7 linked regions of the Homo sapiens genome follow. The protein of the gene in region 7 interacts with the protein of the main gene of each other region in a pairwise test. Each region holds a gene or a part of one and is shown on either strand. Other genes may lie near its edges.

Region 1 (2,560 bases), on a different chromosome or scaffold from region 7:
CTTGGCCTTGCACTAAATGACCATTCTCAGGTAAATGGGCAACCACCTGTTTCAGTGTTGTAAGGACTGAGGTAGGTGATCTATGTGAAAGCGTGAGATACGTGCCAGGTATCATGATCAATACATAAGGGTACACAACAAAGAATAAAAGTTCTATATAAATACAAGGCAATATTATTACATAACTCTACCTATTGCATAGTTTTATAAATCATTTTTCCAGGAGTAAAGGCTGAATGGTAACAAAGATATCTTACCTTGGCCAGTTTCTTCATCCTTCTAAAAGTTTTTCATATTCCAATACCTCTGAATTTCTCAAAAAATCAAATTAAGACCTTAGGAATCTTATTTCCACCTCCCCTCTCCCATCACTTTCCCTCTTTGGTCTTCTCAGAATGAGAAGAGCTCCACTATTTCTTCTAAACACCATCCAGAATGTGAGAATGAAACCCAAACTGAGACCCCTGGCTGGACTTGAGCAGAATGACAGCAGAGACAACTGGGGCATGCCTCTAGGCAAGCTTTATTCTTTGACTCCTTCATCCAGGAAGGGGCTGTTAGTTGCATCTCACCCAAATGGAATGCGATGGGAATTGGGGGCTTGAGTTGTTTGGAGAAGGAGCTGTTGATCTTGGCAAATGAATATAGCTGGTGTGTGGTGTCCATCAATCCTTGAGTGCTTGGCCATGGAGACTAGGGAATGGTCAGAACAGACCCAGAGGTCCCCAGATCTTTACAATACCAAGGTTCAGGAGGTATAGACAGTAAGGAAAAAGTCCATTTCCTATTTCTGTCCATTTTCAGTAAAGTTTTTGTTTTGACTGGCTTTTAAAAAATTACCTAGGAAATGGAAAGCTTATAAACATTCGTAAGTGAATTGTTGAACTGCTACCCCAAGTGGTTTCCTTACCCAGTCACCACTTAACCAGAAATATTAGAATACACGGTTCAACCAGAATTCAACCAGGCAGATAACCTGCCTGTTGCTCAAGCAATCATCAGAGTTTTAAAAAACAAAATTAAGCAAAAAAGACCTTTCCCCAAATAGCATCATTACCACTTAGCTTTGTACGACCCATTCCTAGGAAAGCCACATTCCACTTCAGAGAACATGACCGCTTAAGGTACAGTTAAAACAAAGTCCTTGCCTTTAGGTGCTTACTTTTTGTTTTAAATTAGCCTCTGAAATGCTTTTCTTGTGTCTTCTGCTGCATTCCTGAAAACTATAACTTTTAAGGACACAGCCCTCACTTTTATAGAGGAGGAAGAAAACAGCAAAGAGGTGTCTCATTAGGGAGGCAGAAGGTTATGACCAATGCTGGAGGTCTTCCTCTTCCTTACTTGTTATTCAACAAGATGGGTTCTATGGTGTCGCATGAGGTGTGAGTTGGAAATGAAAGCTGCACCACACTTCTCACATTCATAGGGCTTCTCCCCAGTGTGGGTTCTCTGGTGCACGGTGAGGCTCGACCTCTGTCTGAAGGCCTTCCCACACTCATTACATGTGTAAGGTTTTTCTCCATTATGAATTCTCTGATGAATAAGTAGGTATGAGCTACATGTGAAGGCCTTCCCACATTCATTACACACGTAAGGAAGATCTCCACTGTGAATTCTCTGGTGGACAATAAGGCAAGAGAGCTGACTGAAGGCTTTCCCACATTCGCTGCAGTCGTAAGGTTTCTCTGCAGTGTGAATTCTCTGGTGCACAATAAGGTGTGAAAAACAACTAAAGGCTTTCCCACACTCTTTACACTCATATGGCTTCTCACCAGTATGGCTTCGCTGATGTACAATAAGATTTGCACTCTGGGTAAAGGCTTTGCCACAGTCGTTACAGGCAAAGGGCTTCTCCCCAGTGTGGATCCTCTGGTGGACAATGAGGTTTGAGCTCCTAGTAAATGTTTTCCCACATTCATTACATTCATAGCATTTTTCCGTAATGTGGACTTTCTGGTGCCGAGCAAGTTGTGAGCTGTAACTAAAGGCTTTCTCACATTCATTGCACTTAAAAGTTTTTTCTAAGGAGTGGATTTTTTGATGTACAGTCAGATTTGAACTCTGAGTGAAGGCTTTCCCACATTTTGAGCAAACATAAGGTTTCTGTCCAGTGTGGATTCTCTGATGCACAACGAGGTTTGCACTCTGAATGAAGGCCTTCCCACACTCATGACATTCAAAGGGTTTCTCTCCAGTGTGGATTCGCTGATGCACAACGAGGTTTGCACTCTGACTAAATCCTTTCCCACACACGCTACACGTAAAAGGCTTTTGTCCAAGCTGGGTTTTTGGATTTTTAACAGCGCCAGAATTAAGGCTATATTTTCCTCCAGATTTCTTACATTTCTGGTTTTCCTCTTCTTTGAAGCTTTCAGGTAAGTGACAGTCATTCACTATCACTTGTCTGAAATCTTTCTTTTCTCTCTTTATTCTCTGCCTCTTTAACATGTTTCCCTTTTCACAAGCTTCTCCTAACTCAGGTCCTTGAGGATCAGCTTTCTGGATTCTTTCTGATATGATGAGGGGTTTTTCAGCTTCCTCACATATCTCAGTTTTTGGA
Region 2 (3,393 bases), about 26 Mb from region 7:
CCCTGACACAGAAGCCAGCAGTGGGGTTGCTGGGGGTGGCCAGGGGGCCTTTCCCAGCTGCCATCCCCTGTAGCGGCTCCCCTTCTCCAAAGCCAAGGTGGAGGTGGGCCAGGGGCCTAGGAAAGCCAACCCCAAATGCCTCCCACAGAGTCCCTCCTATGCCTGTCCCTTCCGCCCTCAGGACCTGTGTCCCCACCTGTACCAGGGCATGGACCTCATGACATCCAAGGACCCCACAGCTTTCCTGAGTTTACAGTACCCCTCTCAGACAGTCTCCTGGGGCCCTTCCCGGATGGCACGAAGACAGAGAGGCCAGTGTGCCCTGCCCACAAGTACCTGGGCCAGCTCCCAAGTACCTGTTCCGAGCGGTTCATGCAATTCCGGGCTTCATGCTCCAGGAGGTTCTCCTTCCGAAAGTAACACTTCCCACATTTGGGACACTCAAAGGGTTTCTCCCCAGTATGTTTCCTGCCAGGAGAAGCCACAGGGGTGGGGGGGCTGAGAGGGTTTCCCATCTCTCCCTCACCCAGGGCCCCCTCTGGGTCCCTTCTAAGGGGAACAAGTGTTCTCAGGTGACACCGGCTGGTTAAGGTGCAGGGACAAGCCCAGAAGCCTCCCCCAGCATGGAGACTCTGCAAGGGAGAGTGCAGTGGCAAGAAGCTCACACAGGTCCTAAGAGGCTGCCATGGATCTGGCCAGCACAGAGGCCGACAGGGAGGCCCAGCTGACCGCATTCTGTCTGAAGGCAGAAACAGATCTTGGGTCCTGACTATTGGAGAAGCAACTCAGTCTTCCCAGAGCTTCAAACCCATGGCCAGATCCTCACCTGACTCCACTGGCCCACCAAGGCTGGCAACAGCTTCTCCCAGGTAGCCAGGGGAGCTGCCCATCTGGTCTCCCCGCTCCGTGACTGCCTCCCCCACAGGTTTCAGTTCAGGAGCCAGAAGGACCTTTAAGTCAGACCTCAGTACCTCTTGGCTCACGTATCCCCAGTGCTTCCCCATTCAGAGAAAGGGCCCGGGAGGCCTATCAAGGCGCAGGCAGCCCTCCCCTTGCCTGCTTCTCTCCCAGGGTGTCGTCTGGCCACCTGGATCAGGCATGTGCCTCCTTGCTGCCTGTCACGCCCCCAGGATCCTCCTACCCCAGCGCCCTGGCTCTTCTCTCTGCCCAGATGCTCCCCAGTCACCCACTTGGTCAACTTCCTCACCTCCTTTGAGTCTTTGCTTAAATCTCACCTTCTCAGTAAGACTCTAGAGACCCTGGCTACTTAAAATCGCAATCGAACCCCACTCACAACTCCCCAACCCCTTGGCCCGCCTCTGCTTTTTCTTCTTCGGCAGCACTTCCTCACCGTCTACTGCAGGCAGATGGACTTATCTGTTATCTGCATTGCCTGGCAAGCAGGTCGGCTGCACAAGCACCTTTGTTTAGTTCCCTTAAATGCATCCCAAGCACCCACAAAGCCTTGCTGGCCACCTGGTAGACTGCTTAATCAATGAACTAAACGAACTCGACCTCAGAGCCCCTGTGCAGCCTGCGACAGCTCCTCCCACCTTCCAGAGGCCAAGCAGCTCTCTCATCCTCTTCCTCTACAGCAACTATCTTCATCCCCCATCAAAATGACTTCATGAAGCCATCCCCTCCCAGTTCTCAGGGCCAGTCCAGCAAGCTGAAGCCCAAGGAAGGGATGGAAACTGCCCCAGAGTCTTACCCCAGCAGAGTACTTGAAAGCAAGCATCCAGCAGTACACAGGCTGCCCCAGGACCCCCGACACTGGGGTTATCCCAGCATTCCACTGGCAGCAGCTGCCCTGAACACGGTGCACAGGGACAGCGAACGGGTTTCCCCCTGGCTCCCATTCTAGGTGATTACTAGTGTGCCGCCCAACCTGGCATGGCAAGAAAACACACCATGATAGACTAGTGATGTCTTGGCTGGGAGTGGCAGGACTGGAAGGCATGCCACTGGGCCGCCATCCCCACAGGCCTTGCAGGGACTCCAAAGCAGTGCCGCCCAAGGGGATTCTCCACGATGATGGAAATGTGCTATGTCAGCACTGCCCGATTCAGCCACCAGGAGACACGTGGTTCCTCACCACTTCAGATTTGGCTAACGTATCTGAGGAACTGAATTTTTATTTAATTTTAAATTTTAAGTTAAAATAGTCCCTGGGGGCTGGGCACGGTGGCTCTCGCCTGTAATCCCAGCACTTTGGGAAGCTAAGGCAGGTGGATCGCAAGGTCAGGAGTTTGAGATCAGCCTGGCCAATATGGTGAAACCCATCACTACTAAAAAGTAAAAAAATGGCTGGGCACGGTGGCTCACGCCTGTAATCCCAGCACTTTGGGAGGCTGAGGCAGGTGGATCACAAGGTCAGGAGTTCGAAACCAGCCTGACCAACATGCTGAAACCCTGTCTCTACTAAACACACACAAAAAAATTAGCCAGGTGTGGTGGCGCGTGCCTGTAATCCCAGCTACTCAGGAGGCTGAGGCAGGAGAATCGCTTGAACCTGGGAGGCAGAGGTTGTAGTGAGCTTAGACGGAGCCACCACACTCCAGCCTGGGCGACAGAGGGGAGACTCCATCTCAAAAAAAAAAAAAAAAAAAAGTAAAACAATTAGCTGGGCGTAGTGGTGCGCACCTGTAGTCCCAGCTACTGAGGAGGCTGAGGCAGGAGAATCGCTTAAACCTGGGAGACAGAAGTTGCAGTGAGCCAAGATCATGCCACTGCACTCCAACCTGGGCGACACAGTGAGACTGTCTCAAAAAAAAAAAAAAAAATAACAGGCTGGGCGCAGTGGCTCATGCCTGTAGTCCCAGCACTTTGGGAGGCCGAGGCAGGTGGATCACAAGGTCAGGAGTTCAAGACCAGCCTGGCCAAGATAGTGAAGCCCCATCTCTACTAAAAATACAAATATTAGCCAGGCGTGGTGGCAGGCACCTGTAATCCCAGCTACTCGGGAGGCTGAGACAGGAGAATCGCTTGAACCCAGGAGGCGGAGGTTGCAGTGAGCCGATCTCATGCCACTGCACTCCAGCCTGGCAACAGAGTGAGACTCCGTCTCAAAAAAATAAAATAAAATGAAAAACAACATAGGCTGAGCATGGTGGCTCACACCTGTAATCCCAGCACTTTGGGAGGCCAAGGCGGGTGGATCACAAGGTCAGGAGATTGAGACCATCATGGCCATCATGGTGAAACCCCGTCTCTACTAAAATACAAAAAATTAGCCGGGTGTGGTGGCATGTGCCTGTAATCCCAGCTATTTGGGAGGCTGAAGCAGAGGAATCACTTGAACCCAGGAGGCAGAGGTTGCACTGAGCTGAGATCACGCTACTGCACTCTAGCCTGGTGACAGAGCAAGACTCCAACTCAAAAACAAAAACAAAC
Region 3 (3,500 bases), on a different chromosome or scaffold from region 7:
CTTTTTTTTAAAGCTTCCCAGGTGGTAAAAAGCATGCAGCTAAATTGAGAACATCCACCTACACTATGACTTCCTACTCCCAGCTCTCTGGCTGCCTTGATGCTCCTCCCAGCACGTCTCCAGCTTGTCAAAAACATTTATTCCTGCCTGAGGGCCCTGTGCCCAGGGCTCCCCCTGCCTAGAATGCTCTCTCCTGGACATCTTCAATGGCCGGCTGGCTCACTCCCCCACTGCATTCTCATCTCCATCCAAGATGCCACCTCATCTGTGAGACCTTCCCAAACCAGTCCATGCATAAAAGAGCAACTCTCTTTCCGGCATCCCGCCCCCTTACCTTGCATTTTATTCTTCAACGCACTCACAACACCAAATGTGTTATATACTTGTCTGTACTCTGTCTTCCCTATTGAATGTTGGCCCCTTAAGGCAGGGGCCTGTCCATCTCATTCACTGCTGTATCCTCAAAGCCTAAAACAATGTCTGGTTCCCAGTAAGTGCTCAGTACATGTGTTAAAATCCATATCCTATGAGATGTTTACTGAATTTAAGAAGAAAAACTTGTATTTAAAAAACAACATCCAGGCCAGGCACAGTGGCTCACGCCTGTAATCCCAGCGCTTTGGGAGGCTGGGAGGGTGGATCACTTGAGCCAGGAGTTTGAGCGAGACCAGCCTGGCTAACATGCCAAAACCCTGTCTCTACAAAAAAAAAACACAAAAATTAGCCAGGCGTGGTGGTGCGCACCTGTAGTTCCAGCTACTCGGGAGGATGAAGCAGGAGAATTGCTTGAACCCAGCAGGCAGAGGTTACAGTGAGCCAAGATAGCACCACTGCACAACAGCCTGGGCGACAGAGACAGTGACTCCAAAAAAAAAAAAAAAAAAAGTCCAAAGCACCATAAATCAATTTGCTATTTAGATAATTCCAGTAGACAACAGAATTATTAAATAACCTGTAATGGCAAGTTTTTCTTAGAAAACTGAATAGGCTTATTTTTAACATACATTCTTTGACAAAAGGTATAAAAGATCCAATTTTCCGATCTTACATAAAAAAACTGACCTGCCCTAATCAATGCTGCCTCCTCGTCATCTCTGAAACTGATTTTTCTGGAGGTGGTGCTGCTTAAGTTTAAGTGTTGGTTCTAGGGGAGAAAGTGGAAACATTCTCAGTGTCTATGCTACATTTGTGTCTGTTACATTTGGCTGTCTTTTCTAAAAAAATAATCTTGGGCCAGGCACAGTGGCTCACGCCTGTAATCCCAGCACTTTGGGAGGCCAAGGTGGGCAGATCACAAGGTCAAGAGATCGAGACCATCCTGGCCAACATGGTAAAACCCCATCTCTACTAAAAATACAAAAAAAATTAGCTGGGCATGGTAGCGCACACCTATAGTCCCAGCTACTAGGGAGGCTGAGGCAGGAGAATCACTTGAACCCGGGAGGCAGAGGTTGCAGTGAGCCAAGATCGTGCCACTGCACTGCAGCCTGGCAACAGAGCGAGACTCCGTCTCAAAAAAAAAAAAAAAAATTTATCTTGCTGGGTATGGTGGCTCATGCCTGTCATCTCAGCATTTTGGGAGGCTCAGACAGGAAGACTGCTTGAGCCCAGGAGTTCAAGACCAGCCTGGGCAACATAGTGGGACCCATCTCTACAAAAATTAAAAAATAAAAAATTAGGTAGTGTGGTGGTTTGCACCTGTGGTCCCAGCTACCCAGGAGGCTGAGGTGGGACGATCACCTCAGCCCAGGAGGTCAAGGCTGTGGTGAGCTGTGATCGTGCCACTACACTCTAGCCTGGATGACAGCACAAGCCCTTATCTTTAAAAAAAAAAAAAAAAAAAAGTCTTGATATCACCTTCAATGCTGAAGTAAATTAAGAGTGAAACATAGAACCAGACTCAGACTCACTATTCTGTGGTATTAAATGAATTGTGACATACGAATAGTCCTCAGTAAGTGATCTCCATTTTGCTCATCTACAAGAGATGTGATTTCCCCAAAGACAGTGCTGACAACATTCTGCCTTCCAACTTTTAACTTATCTTCTTACACAACTCCCATCCAATTTATAATAAACATTTCCAAACACAGGCTTAGCAGGGCACTCAGAGAACTTCATTCTTCACTCTCCTGAAAACATCCCGTGTACTGGGGGGACAGACGAGATGGAGTTTTACCTGTGTGTGTTCGCAGATGTTTCTTTAGCTGAGACACATCCATGAATTTGCGATGGCAGTCTTTGCATTCCGGTAATGAGTGGCCTTGTCGCAACAATAAAAAAAGTGTCAGTGCATACATGCTCTCCCTGCCTTTTCTTCAGTGATTTGTGTTAAAGCACTTCCCTGAAAAATAATCACTTTAAATATAGTACTTTAACCACAAAAATTTTTTCATTAATTTGGTAACTGTTAATATTTTCCTAAGCACCTCAACTCACTGCCTCCTCCAAGAGAGCTAGGATCCTTCCAATTCTAAATGTAGTCTCTCCTTTTTTCCTCAAAGTATTGGTGTGACTGAGGCCACAAATGACCTCAAATGACACTCGTAACCCACATTCATTTCTTATCAGTTGGCAGGAAAGAAAAAGGACAACAGGTAGAACCAGGGGAGAGAAAGCCTGGGCTGACAGCCATGGGATGATGATGTCTCTGCCCAGGCACCACTAACAACCATTCACTGAAGCTCCCCTGTGCAAGTGGCACTTTTGAAAGATGCCAATTCTGTAGGGTTTCTGTGTGTGGCACCAAAACTGTAGTATACAAATAAAACATAATTCACATGGTGGCGGACAATAACATAAAAACATGTAATTTAGACTCTTAAGGCACTTTTCCCTAAATACCCTATGTGAACGATATGTGCTAAGAGCAGAACAATATAAACCTAATGTTTCAGAAACAATTCTTATTTGCATTTCTTCCCCCCCAATCTAAATGTTCTCACTTTATCGTACCTGTATGAACTCGGTAATGGCTCTTTAGCTGTCTGTTCTGGCTGAAATATTTTCCGCATTGATCACAGGTAAAAGACTTCTGTCCTGCCAAAAAAACCAAAACACTAAAACATGTAAAAAATTATAAAGAACTGGAATGCTCACTAATAAGGTAAATACTACAGTGGGTCCAGGTCCCCATTTTCTACAAATGATACAAGCGACTTGTTTACATACCCAGAAGCCTTCAATCTACCACAGAAACATAAATGTGCAAAGGTATGTAAGGCAATCGGGAGTACTGGAGACTGGGGTAGAACTGGAGAATTTAAGTTTCCCCGAAAGGCGTTCAAAGTAAAACAATTCTAAACTTTGGTGGTTTAATAAAACATGCTTGCACACTAAACTCCCAGCAGCCAGTTTATAAGCTCTAGTTTAATGATCCGTGCAGAACTCTAAACTGCACTCAGACAGATGCAAAATCCTGTCTTTCAATGACACCACGTTGGAAATGATACTAGGCTGAGAAAACACCATTTAGGTGTTGGTAATGCCCACCCTGGGGA
Region 4 (3,500 bases), on a different chromosome or scaffold from region 7:
TAAAAATCCAGAGCAGTGCTGTCCAGTAAAACTTCTATAATAAAGGAAATATTTGTGTCTGTACTTCCAATTCCAATACACTATCCAGTAGCAACAGGTGCCTAACTGAGCACTTGAAATGTGGCTGTGATTGAGAAACTGACTTTTTATTTTAATTTTAACTGATTTAAATTGCCACATGTGGCTATTTACTGTATTAAACAGAGAATTAAACATGGAAAGGAAGGGAAGAATAAAATTTTACATTTGTATCATGCCTGACAGCTTCCAAAGTACTCATTTAAACATTTATCTTAATTTTCCTAACAACCTTGTAAGTTATGAATATGTACTATTATCCCTATTTTATTGCTAGAAAATTGAACCTGAGGGAGGTCAAAATGAAAGGTCCTTTGGCTACTAAGGAACAGTTTATTCTTAAACTCAGGACATTTAAAAGAACATTAAAACAAAATAAAGAAAGAGATTTCTTATTAAATTTGTGCAAGTTCTAGTTTTATACTCACCTGCCTCATTTTAGCATGAATATAGAAGCAAGAATAACCCAGTTGAGAAATCTTCTTGGCTAGCAATTCAACTCGCTGAGAGGAGTTACAGAAAATGATCGACTGGTTTATCTGAAGCTGAGCACAGAAAAAAATAAGTATGAGAAAAATAAAAAAAACCTTCATTTGGTTTGCCAAATCTTGAAAACACGAACCAGCAAAAAAGAAACATTAACATGGTCTAAAACTTAGAATCTCATGATATGAGAGAGATGGTAAATTGTAAAAATTGTAAATAATAGATGGAAGATAATAATATCTAAGATTTACCGTATTAGAGTATATTTCTTAAGGGCCACATAACTGTCAACAAGAGTAATACAATTGATTATCTGATTCAAAGTAGTTATGTTTTATGTGTTTCCATTTAAAAATATTTTATTTTATTTTTTTTTTGTGAAATGGAGTTTCACTCTTGTTGTCCAGGCTGGAGTGCAATGGTGCAATCTCAGCTCACTGCAACAGCTGCCTCCTGGGTTCAAACAATTCTCCAGCCTCAGCCTCTTGAGTAGCTGGGATTACAGGCACCCACCACAATGCCTGGCTAACTTTTGTATTTTTAGTAGAGACAGGGTTTCAGCCTGTTGGTCAGGCTGGTCTTGAACTCTTGACCTCAGGTGATCTGCCCACTTCGGCTTCCCAAAGTGCTGGGATTACAGGTATGAGCTACTGTGCCCAGCCAAGAATACCTTCTTTAATATACTCACAACCAATGCCACCAGCATTGGGCAGCACTTCAGCACCATGTGTAGGGGCCAATTAAAACTGTGAAATCAGCAACAAAAACTTGAAAAACATGGCAGACTGTGAAAAGGACCCTTGTTCACAGTATGAGAGCTAAACAAGAGGACAGAGATTGCTTTCTTCGACCTCAGCTGGGAATGTGCATGTCAGGTGACTTAAACTCTTTGCCACACTGTACACGTCCACAAATGACTGCTGAACTACCTTGAGTATTAATTCCGGAGTTACAAATAAATTCTAGTGACTAAGCAAATTCACAAATACAGAATATGTGAATAATGAGGATTAACCCTAGTTAAGGTCAAAGTATTTCAGAAACTATTCAAAAGTGTATCTGTGACTTGGTTAATCATTTAGTATCAACTTTAGGTCAACAACTAAACCTGCCTTTTAGGAAACACTATGAATTATTTTTTAATCTTTTTTTTTTTCTTCCCAAGACGGAGTCTTGCTCTGTCGCCCAGAGCTGGAGTGCAATGGTGCAATCTCAGCTCACTGCAGCCTCCGCCTCCTGGGTTCAAGCAATTCTCCTGCCTCGGCCTCCCAAGTAGCTGGGATTATGGGCACACGCCACCATGCCCAATTTTTTTGTATTTTGTAGTAGAGATGGGGTTTCACCATGTTGGCCAGGCTGGTCTCAAACTCCTGACCTCGTGATCTGCCTGCCTCAGCCTCCAAAGTGCTGGGAGGCATGAGCCACCGTGCCAAGCCAGAAACACTACGAACTTTTATACAGTGAAGACGGTGGGAAAATTGATGAAATCATCTGTTTTACTGGGACTCGAGAGATAATATTCAACAGCAGAAGCCTACTTCTTACCCTGGAGAAAAGTGTGTTGAGGCAGTGTACTTTTTGGCGCTCAGTTACATATGCGTAGTACTGGGTTACTCCCTTCAGAGTTAGTTCCTCCATCAGGTTAATCTCATAGGGTTTCTGCAAATGGGAATTCTGGGGGGGGAGCGGGAAAAAGATGAGTCGTCGTCTTAAATGAAAGCAGAGTTCATCTCAAATTCAAAATATACCCTATACGTTTCTGTCCGATAAACTCTTGCTGTAAGGGACGCAACTCTCTTCAAAACAAAATATATGATCTGTCATTACAGAATTTCCCCCCTGCCACCCTGAGACAAAATCTTGCTCTGTCACCCAGGCTGGAGTGTAGTGGCACGATCTCTGCTCCCTGCAACCTCCACCTCCCGGGTTCAAGTGATTCTCCTGCCTCGGCCTCCCGAGTAGCTGGGAATGCAGGCATGCACTGCCATAACAGACTAATTTTTGTATTTTTAGTAGAGACGGGGTTTCACCATGTTGCCCAGGCTGGTCTCGAACTCCTGACCTTGTGATCTGCCCGCCTCGGCCCCCCAAAGTGCTGGGATTACAGGCATGAGCCACCATGCCCGACCCGATAGAAATAAATTAAGATATAAGATCTCAAAAATGCAGCTAAGTTACTACAGGTTGAGTATTCCTTACCCAAAATGCTTAGGAACAGAAGTGTTTCAGGTTTTAAATTTTTTCTAATTTTGGAATATGTGCATTACACTTAGTGACTGAGCATCCTTAATTTGAAAATTCAAAATCCAAAGAACATTTCCTTTTAGCATCATGTTCGTGGCTCAAAAGGTTTCAAATTCTGCAGTATTTTGGATTTCAGTTTAGGATACTCAAGCTCTGTTTTGTATATAGAATAATACCGGAATCAATTCAGCTAGCACCAATGGCTATGTCATCATGACACCAAAAACTAAGTGAAAGATGAGGAATTTAATTAAGTTACTATTACAACCTTCTTAAAAAGTCAGTTAATTTACGTAAAACAAATCTTTAATTGATCAACTGAAGAAAGAGCCAAAGGCTTGAAATAATTAGCATAAAGTATATTCACAGATATGAAGATGTAATTACAAATAAAAGCATACTCAAAGGTCACAGGATGGCACTGATTCCAAGTACAGATTTATACTCACCATGAACTTCTGTACACTAAGAGGGAAAGTAGCGGAATATAGTAAAATCTGCCTGTTTTTAGGTAGCGTGAGAATAATATCCTCCATTATCTGCACAAAATCCTGTGACAGCAACTTATCTGCCTGCAGTAGAAAGAAAAGACAATTTTAAAAACAATAAAATAATGTCTAAGGTCTTGGTTAATACATGGTCAAAGAATAAGGCATCATCCAACAAAAGCATCCATGAAATGTTCCTGGTGG
Region 5 (3,500 bases), on a different chromosome or scaffold from region 7:
ATCTTGACTCACTGCAACCTCCACCTCCTGGGTTCCAGTGATTCTCCTGCTGCAGCCTCCCTAGTAGCTAGGACCACAGGCACATGCCCCCACGCCTGGCTAATTTTTTACCTTTTTTGTAGAGACAGGGCTTCACCGTGTTACGCAGGATGGTCTTGATCTCCTGACCTCGTGATCTGCCTGCCTTGGCCTCCCAAAGTGCTGGGATTACAGGCATGAGCCACTGTGCCTGTCAAAACATATATATATATATTTTTAAGATTTTGTTTGAATATGGAAATAGCCAATCTGGGGATTTCCCACAGTTACGAAGCGGGGTGTGTGTGTGTGTGTGTCTTAACATAGGGGACTTAGGAGTTATCTCATTTCTTTACCATTCCCTTAACTAATCTGTTCTGGATTAGGCCAAAAAAAAAAAAACCAAACAAACCATAAAGGAATACATAATACCAACACAATGGATGTAACTTGTATACTAGTCTACATGTCATTGAACTTGGAGAGCAGGTGACATTTGGGTAATTTGAAGTTGAATATTGCTAAGGAAAATGCTTATTGTAAAATCCATTTGCTCCTTGGTTTATATGAGGAACCTTAAAGGCTTATTTCACTCTTCTATTTTCTCTCTATTCAAACAGAGAAAGTCCATGAAATGGAAAAGGAGCACTTAAATAAGGTTCAGACTGCAAATGAAGTTAAGGCAAGTTTGATGTCACATTTCTAACAGCTTTAATTAATCAGTATTAATTTTGATTAGTCTGACTTTAACATCCTTTTCCCCCCCAAAATTTTAGCAAGCTGTTGAACAGCAGATCCAGAGCCATAGAGAAACTCATCAAAAACAGATCAGTAGTTTGAGAGATGAAGTAGAAGCAAAAGCAAAACTTATTACTGATCTTCAAGAGTAAGTATTATACTTCTCTAGTTAGGAGGAAAGAATCGGTTACTGATGGTCATGGTATATATTCTTATTAGAAACCTGCAGTTTTCATCAAAATTACATTTTTATCTTGGAAAATAAAGAATTTTCTCATTTATGAGTAAAACTTCTAAATTCCAGGTGAAATTTTTGAGGCTTTTTTTTAGGTCTTTTGATCTAAATTATTCAGTAAAAGAAAAAAATCCCCAACCTAAGTCTATTATTGCATACCACAGTCTTCTCCAAATCCTTTATTTAGTTTCCTTTTTTAAAAAAATTCTTGGCTGGGTGCAGTGGCTGATGGCCTGTGACCCCAGTGCTTTGGGAGGCTGGGGTGGGAGGATCACTAGAAGTCAGGAGTTCAAGACCAGCTGGGCAACATAGTGAGACTCCATCTCTACAAAAAATAATTTTTTAAATTAGCTGAGCTTGGTGGCACATGCCTGTAGTCCCAGTGACCCAGGAGGCTGTGGCACGAGGATTGCTTGAGTATTGGAATCTGAGGCTGAAGTGAGCTATGATTGTACTACAGCCTGGGTGACAGAGCGAGACCCTGACTCAAAATTCTTAACTGGGAAAAACTTTTCTGGAAATTCTATGGATTTTCAAAGGTTTTTTTTTTTTTAAGTTGTCATCTTAGTTTATCTAGAAGCAATTTCCCTGCCTCCATAACCATGTGCACATACATAGAGTTTATGGAAGTCAGAGTTTGCAACAATTTGAGTAGGAACCAAGAAGAGAATAACATAACAAAATAATGATGAGGTTTGGGGCGTAGGTCTTACTATGAATACCTGATGGAAGTAGGCATAAGGATTCAGGAAGATGAAAGACAGAGGAGAACAGAATCATGATTTCAAACCAAAATACGAAAAATTTTGTATGTCCACAAGTAGCCAGGTCCCTTTCCTCTTTTCCTCCATAGGGTATAGGATAACAGAAAAGTCCTTGATGAGATTATAGAATTTAAAAGTTTGGAAATTTTAATGATGACATTGAGAAAACTGTGATATTGATACTGTGTTAATTATTTTTTTCTTTCGTCAGCCAAAACCAGAAAATGATGTTAGAGCAGGAACGTCTAAGAGTAGAACATGAGAAGTTGAAAGCCACAGATCAGGAAAAGAGCAGAAAACTACATGAACTTACGTGAGTAATTGTTTTTAATTAAAGTTTAAAAATAAAAGCTAAATTAGAGGATTATAGGCATTACCTTTGGATATAGCCAGTGGATACATATTTTACTTTGTATGGGCTAAAGGATTTTTTCTTAAATCCACTGAGTTGGTTTGATTTATATCTAAATACTTGGAATATATACTTGCATTTGAGTGAAAGCAAGGTCTTATATTTCATTGTGGTTAAGATTAAGGTTTCTCTTTATTAATCTGCTTGCTGTTTCTTTATCTCCATATTACTTCAGGATCCAGCATAAAAATGAACCTAAAACAATATATTAAGTAACTTCGAAGATTTTAAGATCTAACACAAAAACTGAGTTTTTGTTAAATTTTCTCTTGCATAAAAGAGCATTGTGGTGTTTAGCCTTGCCATTTTGAACAGAGGTTTTCATGGTTTACCTTTTCTCATTTTCTCAAAACTCAGTTTTCTAGAATCTTAGCAGGTAGAAAGTGCATGATTATAATTTTTCACATACCTTGAGTTTGTGAGACAATTTGCAAATCAACTGATATTGTTAGGATAGTTAGAACATCAGGACCAGTTCAGAGTGGATTATATGAAGATTCTGCTAACTTGCAGCTGTAATTTTGTTTAGAATACTTGTAATGTAAAATATTTTAGTCTTTGACAGTTTATAATCTATAATTAATCAGTATCATTTTGGATAAATAGCAGTATAATACATGTGGCATATTTTAAAATATAAATTATAGAACTATTCCTTATTCTTTGAATTCTGCCACATTTTATTTCATCTCTTCCATTGCTATATATGGAATGTATAACAATAGACTGTTGTTTAGAAGGCATATGAAAATTTTTTGAAATTGCAAAGCTGCAGTGGCTCACACCCATAATCTCAGCACTTTGGGAGGCCAGGGCAGGAGAATCAGTTGAGCCCAGTGTTTGAGAATCAGCCTAGGCAATATAGTGAGACCCCGTCTCTACAAAAATTTTTTTAGACAGGGCTGATTGTACATGCCTGTAGTCCCAGCTATTTGGGAGACGAGGTGAGGAGGATCACTTGAGCCCAGGAGGTTGAGGTTGCAGTGAGCAGTGTTTGGGACAGAAACTCTGTGTCAAAAAAAAAAAAATTTTTTTTTTGAAAGACAGCACAGGTAAATTGTTTAAAATAGGCATCTTGTATTTATTTAAATTTAAGAATTTATCCTTTCAGACACAAAATATTTTATTCAACTCTCATGCTAAGTACAATATACAGAATAAAATTTGAAAATATATGTTTGTTCTTCTACTGTTAGGGTTATGCAAGATAGACGAGAACAAGCAAGACAAGACTTGAAGGGTTTGGAAGAGACAGTGGTAAGAAAAACATGAAAATAAACAGGATTGGGAAATATTTTGTGGGTTTTTTCTACCATGATTATTCTAAATTTAA
Region 6 (3,496 bases), on a different chromosome or scaffold from region 7:
GCTTGGCTAAATTTTTTTATTTTTGTATTTTTTTTATTTTTAGTAGAGACAGGGTTTTGCCATGTTGGCCAGGCTGGTCTTGAACCCTGACCTCAGGTGATCCACCCCCACTGGCCTCCCAAAGTGCTAGTGGCAGGTGTGAGCCACCACACACGGCCAGAATAGACTTTAAAGCAAGAAAGCAAAAGAAAAAATGTATTAGATCCCCGAGAAGTTTCCACACAACTCCAAGAATTATTATTAGAGTTCCCACTCTCTGAGGAATTTTCAAGAGAAATTAGTTAGAATTCAACAAGAAATAAATTACTTTAAAATATTTCCAAATATGAGAGGTTTTTTTTGTTTTTGTTTTTGTTTTTGTTTTTGTTTTTGTTTTGAGAAAGGGTCTCTGTTGCCCAGGCTGGAGTGCAGTCAGTGGCACGATGTCAGCTCACTGCAACCTTGGCCTCCTAGGCTGAAATAGTCCTCCCATCTCAGTCTCACAAGTAGCTGGGATTACAGGTGAGCACCACCAAGCTCAGCTATTTTTTTTTTTTTTTTGTATTTTTAGTAGAGATGGAGTTTTGCCATGTTGCCCAGGCTGGTCTTGCACTTGGGCTCAAGTGATCCACCTGCCTCAGCCTCCACAGTGCTGGAATTACAGGTGTGAGTCACCATGCCCAGCCAATATGAGAGATTTTAAAGCACATTTTTCAATCACCATGTGTCAAAGAAGAAAATATAATGGAAGTTAGAAAATATTAGAGAATGGCCAGGTGCAGTGGCTCATGTCTATAATCCCAGCACTTTAGGAGGCTGAAGCAGGTGAATCACTTGAGCTCAGGAGTTCGAGACCAGCCTGGCCAACATGGCGAAAATCCATCTCTACTAAAAATACAAAAATTAACCAGGTGTAGTGGCACACGCCTGTAAATCCCAGCTACTCAGGAGGCTGAGGCCCAAGAATGGCTTGAACCCTGGAGGCAGAGGTTGCAGTGAGCTGAGATTGTGCCACTGCACTCCAGCCTGGGCAACGAAACGAGAGTCTGTCTCCAAATAAATAATTAGAGAATATTTTTCAATCTGGATGCAGGTGACATGGGTGTGCTCTCGAGAATCCATCAAGCATTGATGATTTGCACACTCTTTTGTGTATATGTTACACTTCAGCAAAAACATTCACAAAGGGGAAAAAGGCAAAAGATACTTAAAGCAGCCAGAGGTAAAGACACATCACCTTCAGACATGACAACCAGACAGACAGACAGCTGGCTTTTCAAAGGAACCCAGAAAACAGTTGGGTGACATTTTCAACATGCTAAAAGAAAACCACTAACCCAAATCAGAGACCCAGCAAAAGTATTTCAAGAATGAGGTTACAGTAAAAACATTTTGCAGACAAATAACGAAAGAGTTTGCCAGCAGCAGGCTAACACTAAAGAAAATTGTAAACAGTGTACTCACATCAGGCACAAGGAAAGTGATCTCAGACGGAAGGGCATGATGCAAGAAGAAATAAAAGCAAAGAAGTAGAAAATACATGAGAAAATCTAGACAAAGATTGCATAAACAGTTTCTGGAGTTTTTTTAAGTGATAGAATTATACAACAGGAAAAAAAGTCTGCAGGGAGTAAACTGAGTTAAAATGTTCCAAGTTAATGACTGTCTGGGAGGAGAATAAATAACATGGATACACTTTGGGAGGCCGAGGCGGGCGGATCACGAGGTCAGGAGATCGAGACCATCCTGGCTAACACGGTGAAACCCCGTCTCTACTAAAAATACAAAAAATTAGCCGGGCGCGGTGGCGGGCGCCTGTAGTCCCAGCTACTCCGGAGGCTGAGGCAGGAGAATGGCGTGAACCCGGGAAGCGGAGCTTGCAGTGAGCCGAGATTGCGCCACTGCAGTCCGCAGTCCGGCCTGGGCGACAGAGCGAGACTCCGTCTCAAAATAAATAAATAAATAAATAAATAACATGGATAAAATTTGTTGTTTGTTGTTGTTGTTGTTGTTGTTGTTGTTGTTGAGACGGAGTTTCGCTCTTGTTGCCCAGGCTGGAGTGCAATGGCGCGGTCTTTGCTCACTGCAACCTCTGCATCCCGGGTTCAAGCTATTCTCCTGCCTCAGCCTCCTGAGTAGCTGGGATTACACGATGCGCCACCAGGCCTGCCTAACTTTGTATTTTTGGTAGAGGCGGGGTTTCTCCATGTTGGTCAGGCTGGTCTCAAACTCCCGACCTCAGGTGATCCGCCCGCCTCGGCCTCCCAAAGTGCTGGGATTACAGGCATGAGCCACTGCGCCCAGCCAAATCTGCATTTTGATAAGTATGCATTTTACTATCTAAGGGAGCTAAAACATTTTTATTATTTTAGCACTGTAACTTTGCTTTTCTTCTTTGTTTTGTTTTTTTGAGACAGAGTCTCACTCTGTCGCCCAGGCTGGAGTGCAGTGGCGTGATCTCAGCTCACTGCAACCTCCACCTCCTGGGTTCAAGCAATTCTCCTGCCTCAGCCTCCTGAGTAGCCAGGATTACAGGTGCACGCCACCACACCCAGCTAATTTATGTAATTTTATAGAGTTGTGGTTTCACCATATTGGCCAAGCTGGTCTAGAACTCCTGGCCTCAAGTGATCCACCTGCCTCGGCCTCCCAAAGTGCGGGGAGACCAGAATTCCACCCAGAATGACCTCTCTGTTCCTAGGAGTGTGACAGCATTTGGGGGGGAAAATAGCGTAGAGTTGGAATTTTTAAAATTCAGTTTGACAAAATGACTTTTAGCTGGAGCATTAAGTCCCTTTACATTTAATGTAATAACTGATATTACATTTAAGTATAAATTTAAATCTACCGTCTTACTTTGTTTTCTATTTTTGTCCTTTCTATGTTCTCTTTTATGTCCTCTCTGGATTTATTACAGATTGTTTGTGGCTTTTAAAAAAAGTCATTGCTTGAATGATGAGAGCTTATATTTAAAAAGGCAGGGGGCTAAAATAAATAAATAATTTAAAAAATAAAAATAAAGTCATTGTTTTCCTTTGAATGTTTGAGAGTTACAATTCTAGGCTGGGCGAGGTGGCTCAAGCCTGTAATCCCAGCGCTTTGGGAGGCCAGCCCAGGTGGATCACCTGAAGTCAGCATCGTGAAACCCCATCTCTACTAAAAATACAAAAATTAGCCGGGCACAGCGGCATGTGCCTGTAATCCCAGCTACTCGGGAGGCTGAGGCAGGAGAATCACTCGAACCTGGGAGGCGGAGGTTTCAGTGAACCAAGATCTCACCATTTCACTCTAGCCTGGGCAACAAGAGCAAAACTCCATCTCAAAAAGAAAGAAATATATATGAGTAGATATTAAATGTGTACACATATATACATATATAAAGGCTAAAATAATGATCTAAGCCTCCATCTCAAGAAGTTAGAAAAAGAACAACAAAATAAATGTAAGAGCACAGAAAGAAGGAAATAATAGGGAGTAGATACAAAGAAAATGGAAAAGAAACACTCAATAAAGAAAA
Region 7 (3,500 bases):
CATCTTTACTAAAAAAAAATACAAAACTTAGCTGGGCATGGTGGCACACGCCTGTAATCCCAGCTACACGGGAGGCTGAGGCAGGAGAATCACTTGAGCCCGGGAGGCGGAGGTTGCAGTGAGCTGAGATTGTGCCACTGCACTCCAGCTTAGATGACACAGTGAGACTTCATCTCAAAAAAAAAAAAAAAAAAAAAAAAAAATCCAAGAAAGCTAATACAGTCTGGTAAAATATGTAGGAAAATGTATGGAATTACCACTAGTACAGTTATTATCCTGTGTGTAACTGTTGACATATTAATCAGTAAACATTAAAAGTACATGATTTGAATGAATTCTGATTTCTCCTGAGATAGTAATATTATGCGTATTAGGCTGGGCGTAGTAGCTCACATCTGTAATCCCAGCACTTTGGGAAGTGGAGGTGGGTGGATCACTTGAGGCCAGGAGTTCAAGACCAGCCTGGCCAACATGGTGAAACCCCATCTCTACTAAAAATACAAAAAAAAAAAAAAAAATTAGCCGGATATGTGCTTGTAATCCCAGCTACTCGGGAGGCCAAGGCAGGAGAATCACTTGAACCCAGCAGGTGGAGGTTGTGGTAAGCTGAGATCGTGCCACTGCACTCCAGCCTGGATGACAGAACGAGACTCTGTCTCAAAAAACAAACAAACAAACAAACAAAACTATGGGTATCAAATGTGGTATTGTTTTTGTTACAAGCTCTGATACAGATTCATGTCCATCCCTCCAAAATATGTATCTTCTAACTCTATCCACTGAAATAGTGTAAAAGAAATGACACCTCCGTAACAATGACTGCCCAGACTTTGGGCTCTAATTTCACTTTCCACTAAAGGAAATGGATTGAGAAATGGCTGATTCCAGCTCTGTGGTAGGGAAAGTACAAAGTGAGTCTAGGCCTCTTTTGGAGCCAGAGAACAAGGACACTTTCAAAATTTAATGGAGTTGTGACAAAAGGAGACAAGAGCCAGCATCAAGGTAGAGACTGTTCACTGGATAAAACTAAAAATTTGAGTGTCAAAAGGAATAATAATTGTGGATCCAAACATAATAAACCAATACAATTCCTCAAATTCCTGAGACCATATGATATCTAAAAATATAAGACCAGCAGACGTGGTGGCTCACGCCTGTAATCCCAGTACTTTGGGAGGCCGAGGTGGATGGATCACTTGAGGTCAGGAATTCAAGACCAGCCTGGCCAACATGGTGAAACCCCATCTCTACTAAAAATACAAAAACTAGGTGGGCACCTGTAGTCCCAGCTACTCGGGAGGCTGAGACAGGAGAATTGTTTGAACCTGGGAGGCAGAGGTTGCAGTGGGGCAAGATCACGCCATTACACTCCAGCCTGGGCAACAGAGCGAGACTCTGTCTCAAAAAAAAAAAGAAAAAAGAAAGCAGGTGTAGTGGAGACCTCCTTTGGTTGGACAGCCGCAACTAGACTGAAATCCTACCAGACAAGGATTCAGTAATCACTGGTAGATGCTGAGTATCTACAGTGGTGATTCTGACCTAGACACTTAAAGCATTTATACAGTTTATATTATCTTTGGCTCTGAACAGACCAGTATATAAAAACATATTAGACTAAGTGAATTAAAATGGAAATATAAAACTATTTACCATCAAAAGAATATACCCCACTTCAAGGTCTTGAAGGAGATTAAAAATCAATATACATAATTATGCTTTACGTGCAAAGTAAAAACACTAAGTTGGAAGAATTTTAAATATGGTAGAGTTGTGTGAAAACATTTCCCTCAGCAAATGAGATGATCCTAAAGCCCATAAATGTATTTTTTTTGTTTGTTTTTTGTTTTAGACAGTGTCTCACTCTGTCATTCAGGCTGGAGTGCAGTGGCGCGATCTCAGCTCACTGTAACCTCCACTTCCTGGGTTTGGGCAATTCTCGTGCCTCAGCCTCCTGAGTAGCTGGGATTATAGGTGTGCGCTACCATGCCAGCTAATTTTTGTATTTTTGGTGGATGGGGTTTCACCATGTTAGCCAGGCTGGTCTTTTTTTTTTTTTTGAGATGGAGTCTCGCTCAGTCGCCCAGGCTGGAGTGCAGTGATGCAATCTCGGCTCACTGCAAGCTCCGCCTCCCAGGTTCACACCATTCTCCTGCCTCAGCCTCCTGAGTAGCTGGGATTGCAGGCGCCCGCCACCACGCCTGGCTAATTTTTTTGTATTTTTAGTAGAGACGGGGTTTCACCATGTTAGCCAGGATGGTCTCGATCTCCTGACCTCATGATCCGCCTGCCTCGGCCTCCCAAAGTGCTGGGATTACAGGCGTGAGCCACCGCGCCCAGCCAACCAGGCTGGTCTTGAACTGAACTGGCCTCAAGCAATCTGCCCGCCTTGGCCTCCCGAAGTGCTGGGATTACGTGTGTGAGCCACTGTGCCTGGCCAACTGTACATATTTCTTAAGAAGTAAAATGATGGGCCAGGTACTGTGGCTCACGCCTGTAACCCCAGCATTTTGGGAGGCTGAGGCAGGTGGATCACTTGACCCCAGGAGTTCAAGACCAGCCTGGGCAACATGATGAAACCCCATCTCTACAAAAAATATAAAAATACAAAAATTAGCCTGGCATGTTGGTGCAGGCCTGTAGTCCCAGCTACTCAGGAGGCTGAGGCGGGAGGATAATTTGAGCCTGAGAAGTCGCGGCTGCAGTGAGCTGAGATGGCACCACTGCACTCCAGCTTGGGCGATAGAGAGAGACCCTGTCTCAAAAAAAAAAACAAAAGCTGCAGTGAGCTGAGATGGCACCACTGCACTCCAGCTTGGGCGATAGAGAGAGACCCTGTCTCAAAAAAAAAAAACAAAACAAGGCCGGGCGTGGTGGCTCATGCCTGTAATCCCAGCACTTTTGGGAGGCTGAGGCAGGTGAATCACCTGAGGTTGGGTGTTTGAGACCAGCCAGGCCAATGTGGTGAAACCCCATCTCTACTAAAAATACAAAAATTAGCCAGGCGTGGTGGCACACACCTGTATCCCAACTACTTGGGAGGCTGAGGCAGGAGAATTGCTTGAACCCGGGAGGCAGAGGTTGCAGCGAGCTGAGATTACACCATTGTACTCCAGCCTGGCAACAAGAGTGAAACTCCATCTCAAAAAAACAAAAACAAAAACCAAAAAAGAATTAGTAAAACGATGAAAAAAAATCATACATACTGTTCGAAAATGGCTACTTAGATGGTCTAGCCTGCTAAATCTTTTTCCACAAGCTTGACATGGATAGGGCCTTTCTCCTGTATGACAACGAAGGTGGCGCTTTAGGTCTGCCTTCCGCTTCACCACATGTGTGCAGTACGGGCACTTGAATCGCATCCGAGGCAGATCATCTGTCAAGAGACGCTTTGATTAAATCACTGGAAAGTTCATAACAATTCTAATAACAGAAAGAATCCAATCCAAGCCCAATGGAAACAAGGAAAGAAAAAAATAAACTTAAAAAAAAAGAAATAAAAA

The links.
Region 1: the proteins of ZBTB8A (region 7) and ZNF35 interact in binary tests that used the Homo sapiens proteins (3 or more experiments, as listed by UniProt).
Region 2: the proteins of ZBTB8A (region 7) and ZBTB48 interact in binary tests that used the Homo sapiens proteins (3 or more experiments, as listed by UniProt).
Region 3: the proteins of ZBTB8A (region 7) and ZBTB24 interact in binary tests that used the Homo sapiens proteins (3 or more experiments, as listed by UniProt).
Region 4: the proteins of ZBTB8A (region 7) and DDX6 interact in binary tests that used the Homo sapiens proteins (3 or more experiments, as listed by UniProt).
Region 5: the proteins of ZBTB8A (region 7) and KIF5B interact in binary tests that used the Homo sapiens proteins (3 or more experiments, as listed by UniProt).
Region 6: the proteins of ZBTB8A (region 7) and AP1M1 interact in binary tests that used the Homo sapiens proteins (3 or more experiments, as listed by UniProt).

The regions. Positions count from the first base shown.
Region 1 is NC_000003.12:44,658,732-44,661,291, reverse strand, and holds the end of ZNF35 (zinc finger protein 35), read right to left. Parts: coding exon 1,345-2,560; 3' UTR 501-1,344; downstream 1-500. UniProt on the Homo sapiens protein: May be involved in transcriptional regulation. Involved in cell differentiation and/or proliferation.
Region 2 is NC_000001.11:6,582,994-6,586,386, reverse strand, and holds part of ZBTB48 (zinc finger and BTB domain-containing protein 48), read right to left. Parts: intron 469-3,393; coding exon 357-468; intron 1-356. UniProt on the Homo sapiens protein: Plays a critical role in transcriptional regulation and chromatin remodeling. Acts as a regulator of telomere length. Directly binds the telomeric double-stranded 5'-TTAGGG-3' repeat.
Region 3 is NC_000006.12:109,473,220-109,476,719, forward strand, and holds part of ZBTB24 (zinc finger and BTB domain-containing protein 24), read right to left. Parts: intron 3,040-3,500; coding exon 2,956-3,039; intron 2,264-2,955; coding exon 2,180-2,263; intron 1-2,179. UniProt on the Homo sapiens protein: May be involved in BMP2-induced transcription.
Region 4 is NC_000011.10:118,756,665-118,760,164, forward strand, and holds part of DDX6 (probable ATP-dependent RNA helicase DDX6), read right to left. Parts: intron 3,381-3,500; coding exon 3,258-3,380; intron 2,239-3,257; coding exon 2,110-2,238; intron 624-2,109; coding exon 507-623; intron 1-506.
Region 5 is NC_000010.11:32,018,426-32,021,925, reverse strand, and holds part of KIF5B (kinesin-1 heavy chain), read left to right. Parts: intron 1-638; coding exon 639-700; intron 701-794; coding exon 795-904; intron 905-1,526; exon of another isoform or gene 1,527-1,966; coding exon 1,967-2,068; exon of another isoform or gene 2,069-3,363; coding exon 3,364-3,424; exon of another isoform or gene 3,425-3,500. UniProt on the Homo sapiens protein: Microtubule-dependent motor required for normal distribution of mitochondria and lysosomes. Can induce formation of neurite-like membrane protrusions in non-neuronal cells in a ZFYVE27-dependent manner.
Region 6 is NC_000019.10:16,242,911-16,246,406, forward strand, and holds the end of AP1M1 (AP-1 complex subunit mu-1), read left to right. Parts: 3' UTR 1-2,996; downstream 2,997-3,496. UniProt on the Homo sapiens protein: Subunit of clathrin-associated adaptor protein complex 1 that plays a role in protein sorting in the trans-Golgi network (TGN) and endosomes.
Region 7 is NC_000001.11:32,594,927-32,598,426, reverse strand, and holds part of ZBTB8A (zinc finger and BTB domain-containing protein 8A), read right to left. Parts: intron 3,374-3,500; coding exon 3,204-3,373; intron 1-3,203. UniProt on the Homo sapiens protein: May be involved in transcriptional regulation.